Linked DNA regions of Homo sapiens. The protein of the gene in region 1 purifies or fractionates together with the protein of each later gene. This does not show direct contact. Each region holds a gene or a part of one and is shown on either strand. Other genes may lie near its edges.

Region 1 (3,500 bases):
CCATTAGTACCCTCCCTAAAGGGAAGTGATCCAGATGAGTCACTTCCTTTCGGCTGCATTAAGAATCTGAAGCAAAGGGAAACTGACCAGATGCCTAATTAGCCCCCTGGCTTCCTCCCAGACTCTAAGGCCATAGGAAGAAATTCACAGGGGCTCCCTGGGTTCCTTTGGGATTAGCTCAACCCCACTTCCTGACTAGAGCTGCCCCCAGGCTTGAGCCCATCCTGTGGGACTTAGGCCTAGCTCAACCATGTGCCATGAGCCAACACTGTGCTCAGTGGTTTAACTCTTGTGTTAGTGCTTCACCCTCTACAACCGTTCTCCCTGCCCTGGCTCCACCCACTAAAAGCCCTAATTCCCAGAAAATCCTACCTGTGTCACAAGCTGGAGAGGCACATCTAGCACACACCCCGGGAGCTGTGTCGGACTGCGGCCCCTTACTGAGCATGTCTGGTCAGCCGTGGCATCAAGTGGCCAGATGTGGCTAGAGCCCTGCAGCCACTCCTGGAGCCAGAGGAAGGGAGGAAGGGTTCCTTCTTGGAGCCATCTAGTCCTGAAAACACGTTGGAGGACAAGTGGCTGGTTATTTTTCAGGGATGCTGAAAGCAGTATAAACTGCTGTCTTAGATTCGGATCACTGCTGGTCACTCCAGATCCTAGGCTGTTTAGGGCCACGTTGCTTTGTGAAACACAAGATCTTGGCTAAGCTGCAAATCTACTCACTCATTCTGTCCATCTCCTGGACCACCCTCCCCCAACACACACACATTAGTTTTATTAGATGAGGTTTCACTTCCTGTCTCAGATGTCTGTGTCTTATTGGCATGTACCTGTCAAATTGGCATGTACCTGCCTCACCCAGAAGCAGCTTTCTTCCCACCCCCCTAACTACTCCCTCCCCCATCTTTAATATATGTCATTTGCTTGTAATCATTATAATTAGCGATTGGTTTGTTGAATGCGTTGGATAGCTAGAAAGGAGAGGTCTATAGACATGTCTCTGGCTATTGTTGATCACAGATTTTAATTAATATTTACAGTTCAAAGCTTCTCTCTAGGCTGGATGGGCAGGGAAGCTTAGGTTTCTAACTAGCATCTATATCAACCTTGTCTGGCGTCCCCTTGCCGTTTTTATGTCATCCTTGAGGAATAATCTGTTTTTAAAATTTAATTCAACAGCTTTGTTTTGAATTCTCACTCTGTACCAAGCGCTATGCCAGAGACTAGGCTACCAGTGTGGTTAAGACAGAGTTTGTGTCCTGAAGGAGCTCATAAAGGAAACAGAGCTGCCCAATTGGCTGTGATACAGGCAGTAAGAACAGAGTGCAGTGTGGGCTCAGAGGAGGAGGTGATCTATTGGTCCTTGGTGGGGGGGCAGAGTGGGCACATGTGGACATGATGGGGGGTCTCAGCTGCACAGAGAAGGTAACATATGAGCAGGACCTAATAGAAAAAGGACTTAAAATGTCTCTTTTTAGCCTTCAATGCTACCTGACCCCCCACTTGGAACATCTACTCCCCAGTGGACCCATGGCACACTTGCCGTCTCTTCTGCCATTGGGGGAGTCCACTGGCATGATGGGAAGAGGGGAAGAGAGCAGAGAAGCCTGAAGTGTGGTGCTGAGAGCTTTCCCTCTCCCCTCCCTAACTCTGTTTATTCTTGTGACAGTGTTCCCACAGAGGATCCCTCCGGGGAGTCCCTAATCATCAGCCCTGAGGAGTTTGAGCGAATCAAATGGGCATCCCATGTCCTGACCAGAGAAGAACTTGAGGCCAGGGACCAGGCCTTCAAGAAGGAGAAGGAAGCCACCATGGTAGTTAACCTCCCTAAGCCTTCACCTCTGCAGATGGGTGGCAGAATCAAAATGCACTGGGGAACTCTCATCAGGGGACCCTGAAATGAGGCACAAATTATGTACTTAATGAAGAAATATTACAGAAAGGAGACCAAAGAGCAATACCTGAGATGAGAGGTGGGAGCAGCCGGGGCCAAGGGGAGGGCTGAGAATGAAGCCAGGCTGTGGAACTTCTTGGCTCTGACATCATCACTGGCCAAGGCAAAATTGTACTGGGTCACCTGTGGTAGCCAGGCTAGCGCCCAGGGCACAGAGCGCATGAAATAATCTCCCACTGAGCCAGACTGGTCTCCCTTAGGATGCAGTGATGACACGAAAGAAGATCATGAAACAGAAGGAGATGGTGTGGAACAACAACAAGAAGCTCAGTGACCTGGAGGAGGTGGCCAAGGAACGGGCCCAGAACCTCCTGCAGAGAGCCAACAAGCTGCGGATGGAGCAGGAGGAGGAGCTCAAGGACATGAGCAAGGTGGGCTCTTCGTCTCTCCCTTCCCTCTGAGCATTCACTGCCATCCCTCCGCCCTCCCCTTATTCCCGCACTGGACAAGGCCAGGGACTGGTGGGGGTGTGGGCAGGGGTGGGGCGGGGGAGAGCTGCACCTGCTGTGGTAGTTGCAGTGATCACAGTGAGGACTGGCTCTGCCACCTGTTCGCTGTGTGACCATGGGCAAGTCACTTGCCCTCCCTGAGCCTCACTTTCTTCATTTGTAACTTGAGGGTGGTAAAACTACTTTGTGGAATCATTGGCAGGATGAAATAAGGTAGTAGATGGGAGAGGCTTTGTGGGCTGAGGATTGGTAAATTAAATGTGCAGTGTTACTTTTATTTTCATCCTGTTAGTTCAGTTCTGGCCACGTATGGTGGTCGAGGCAATTGGATGCTTTTGGAGTACCCAAAGCTTTTCCTTTGGCTGAGAGCCTAAAGACCAGAGGCTCATTTGAATTCTGTTGTAACTCATTTGCATGTGGTTCACTTCCTTACCAAATGAAAAGTGCTGATTCCCCAATCCCTGCACCTCTGATTTCTGTCTCTCAGGTAAATCTTCTCTATGTATGCCTCCTTTAATTTTCTAAAGGTTTTACTTTTGGGTTCTTATTCATGGGCCCGTGGTTTTTCATCCCTTTTGTGTCATGTTGGGCTCTTCCAGCTTAAAAATCTTGTGGCCTGGCCTCTGCAAGAGTGTCTTAGCTCCCCTGAGGAGAACAAGGGGTCCAACCTGGAGTTCATGGGTCTCTAAGTGGAACAATGGACCTCTGAAGTTTTATAGAAATTTTGTGTGTACATGTATAAGTGAGTTTTATGGAGGAGAGGGCCGTTGCTTTCATCATATTTCCAAAGGGTGACCCATTACCACCAAAACCCTAAGATGTAGCTCCCTGAAAGATGCTATTCCAGGCCCCTCCTTGCACAGACCCTGGCACCTAGCAGGAGGCCAGTAAATCTTTGAGCTAAACTATATTAAGGGGAAAGGTAAATATAAGAACATTCTTATTTCCCCGGACTTGTGAGCAGTCATGCACACCTCCAGCATGCTCAGCAGTATAGCATTCTGTTTCCATTTCTTCCCCTTAAACTTACACATCCCTAGGCCTAGTGCTACAGTTTAATCTCCACTCTCCAGATTATCCTCAATGCTAAGTGCCAT
Region 2 (3,500 bases), on another chromosome or scaffold:
GACCCTCAAGTTTAAGATTTATCCTGATTATAAGCCAAGTTTTATAGTATATTTAACCAATTCCATCAAGAATAATTTTAATATCAAAAATTAGTGTTTTCTGTAGCCATTGTCCATGTCAGAGTTACAGTCCTTTTTGTCATTGATAATATAACCTATGAAGCAGATAAGGATTGAGGAATATGACTGGAAGGAATTACTATTTAGCTAAGCTGACAAGGTCGCTTCTTAAGATGACATTTGGTTTCAGTAATCTGACTATTCTGTTTTCACTTTCATCTTCTTTCTAAATGAAAACAAAAGTGCTCCCTCCCTTCCTGGAAACCTCAGTAACACTATGGGAAAAGTAGAACATGACATTGCAGCCTATTGATTTCTTCTTCCAGATAGGTTTAAAGTACTCCTTAAGTTCTGACTAAATAGAACTAAGCCTTATTAAAAATAACTGCCTCTTGTTCATGTTATCTGTACCTTCAGGGACCTGCCTTTCTTCAAGTATTTCCTAGAGTATCTATTATGATACTGAAGAAGCTAATTATTTGTGTTGTAAATGGGTATAAATGAAAAAAAAACATACTGGTTTCTCTAGCCAGGAAAAATGCTTTCTGGTGTAATATATCTTGCTCCAGAACCCTCATTCTAATTGTAACACTAGGATCAAAGAAACAAAGTCACTTTGTGGACCACAGCTAAACTGTGGATATTTTCCCAAAGACATAAGATTTTTATGGCCCGAGCCTCTAGAAAGGAAGCCATGTTTAGGAGCAACCAGCTTTCCTCCCAGCTTTAGGGGGCAGAGTTCCTGAGCCAGAGGACTTACTGTCCAGCTTTGAGAACCTCTCCAGAGTATATGCACTGGGTACTGCTCTTTTTCAAGAGAACCAAATTAAGAGGATGGCAAGAAACAGTAGAAGCACAGAGGAAAGACAACTCTGCATGTGCCTGTGTGAATGTGTGCATCCATGGAGTATTTCCCAGGTAAATACTAGTACTGGGGACATAGGCTAATTGTGTGTCCCACACTGCAAGATGCTAGGGCGTAGTTAACACTGTGGTATACATACAAATCAGGCACTGTCCAAAAGATTTTTTAAAATCTAAAGTCTGAAATGTAAAAATATAAGGTCTCAACCCACTTTTACACTTTTAAAGAGATCCCATACCTGTTTCACTGACTGCCGTTAATTACACTTTTGGATCACAGCTGGTTAAATTGATAGATTTCAGTTTATCTCAGTGAATTTTTAGAATGGAGATTATAGCATTTTTTAATTGGAGAACAGACATTTCCTAAAGTATATGAAAAAAAATTATTCACTGTTGGTTTAAACCAGTATCTTTGTATGAGTGCCAAAGATATATGAACACAGATACTGCCTGTGCAGACCTAAATTTTAGTTTTGTGTACCTGGATCCATATACAAATTTTTTGTGGTTTATAGCATAAAAGCAGAACGTTGTTTCTTTCTTAGTTTTCAACCGGCTCATCTTTTGTTTTTGTTTTTTGTTTTTTTGTTTTTTGTTTTTTTTGAGATGGAGTCTTGCTTTGTTGCCCAGGCTAGAGTGCAGTGGCACAATCTCTGCTTACTGCAACCTCCACCTCCGGGGTTCAAGTGATTCTCCTGCCTCAGCCTCCTGAGTAGCTGGGACTACAGGCGCGCACCACCATGCCCGGCTAATTTTTGTATTTTTAGTAGAGATGGGGTTTCACTATGTTGGCCAGGCTGGTCTCGAACTCCTGACCTCGTGATCTGCCCACCTCAGCCTCCCAAAGTGCTGGGATTACAGGCGTGAGCCGCCATGCCCGGCCAATTTTCAACTGGCCCATACTTTATAGTGATGGAAAGCGCATAAACTACTTGTAAATCATTAAAATAGGGTGATAACTGTGATAATAGTGTTTCTTGCATTCTAGAAAATTATTTTATTAACTACATTCAAAACCCAGCATTTCACAGGTTCCATCATTAGAAACAGTATAGTTCTAGTTAACATGATTGGAGAGTTTCAGGGGAAAGGTTTACATTTTCTGAAACTGTATTTGGTATGTGACTCAATGTGGTATTTCAGTCTTGTTAGTCACTTACATGACTGACGTTTGCAAGGATTTATTGCCAAGTAAAATTTGACCAGAGTGCACTGAGAATAGCTACATAAGGGGAAATCTCTCAAAATTCCTTCTGTTCATTTAATTTGGAGCATATTGTTTAAATCATTTTAAACATATGTAAAAAGTTGAAGCATTAAAAAATCTTCAAGAAACAATGAAAAAATAGAAATTAGCAAACATAAGTTTCTTAATGCAAAATTAATAGTGAATAAAATATAGCCTACATTAAAAGCCAGAGGCTTTGCTATAAATATAAGAGTTTAGAAAAACAGTGTGCTTCAATTAAGGACTAAATTATCAAAACTGCATGTTTGTTTTTTCTTTTCTTTTCTTTTTTTTTTGAGATGAAGTCTCACTCTGTTGCCCAGGCTGGAGTGCAGTGGTGCGATCTTGGCTCACTGCAACCTCTGCTTCCCAGGTTCAAGCGATTCTCGTGCCTCACCATCCCGAGTAGCTGGGATTACAGGTGCACCACACCATGCCCAGTTAATTTTTGTATTTTTAGTAGAGACAGGGTTTCATTATTTGGCCAGGCTGGTCTCGAGCTCCTGATCTTAAGTGATCCACTCGCCTCGGCCTCCCAAAGTGCTGGGATTATACACATGAGCCACTGTGCCCAGCCTAAAACTACATGTTGAAGCTTCCGGTCATTTCCATTATTATCCTTCTTTTGAAATTCAAGTTAGTGCTTTTTAACCAAATAAAAGAAGAACCAGCTCTTGGGATATGTGACTCTGCCTCTGTATAAAGTGACTGGAATTTTGTTAAAACCGTGTTTCCACTTCTGAACCCTGTTACCATTCCCCCTCACAAATCCCCACCCAACACCTGGATTTTAAAGATCCTCCAGTGTCAAGGGAAGCCACAGAGTCTATTAAAGAGGCAGTTCTGAACCAATTAATTTTTGTCCTTATAATTTAGAGCATTAAATAGCTAATATATTTAATGGCACTAATTGTTGTTCACGGCTTTCATCATACTTTTAAACAGAATCCAAAGTATTCAAAGGAAAGTAAGCGAAGTTATCCAAAGCCAACTTTGTTTCAGGTGTGTCCCCTGCCCCAAATAGATTTTAGGGCAGAAATAGAAAACTGAGTTTACACAGAACTATTTTTGGAAAAGCTGCACTGGAGTAGATGGATTCTTCTTCAGCATACTTTTTTGTTTGTTTGTTTGAGATGGAGTCTTGCTTTGTCACCCAGGCTGGAGTGCAGTGGTGTGATCTCCACTCACTGCAACCTCCACCTCCCAGCTTCAAGTGATTCTCCTGCCTCAACCTTCCAAGTAGCTTGGATTACAGGCGTGCGCCACCACAGCTGGCTAATATTTGTATTGTTAGTAGAGACAGGGTTTCACCATGTTGTCCAGGCTTGTCGAACTTCTGACCTCA

What was found.
Region 2: the proteins of CFAP45 (region 1) and SAR1B purify together in Homo sapiens (affinity purification with mass spectrometry; one large-scale study listed by BioGRID and IntAct). This does not show direct contact.

What each region holds. Positions count from the first base shown.
Region 1 is NC_000001.11:159,886,666-159,890,165, reverse strand, and holds part of CFAP45 (cilia- and flagella-associated protein 45), read left to right. Parts: intron 1-1,669; coding exon 1,670-1,814; intron 1,815-2,154; coding exon 2,155-2,325; intron 2,326-3,476; coding exon 3,477-3,500. UniProt on the Homo sapiens protein: Microtubule inner protein (MIP) part of the dynein-decorated doublet microtubules (DMTs) in cilia axoneme, which is required for motile cilia beating.
Region 2 is NC_000005.10:134,601,829-134,605,328, reverse strand, and holds part of SAR1B (small COPII coat GTPase SAR1B), read left to right. Parts: 3' UTR 1-3,500. UniProt on the Homo sapiens protein: Small GTPase that cycles between an active GTP-bound and an inactive GDP-bound state and mainly functions in vesicle-mediated endoplasmic reticulum (ER) to Golgi transport.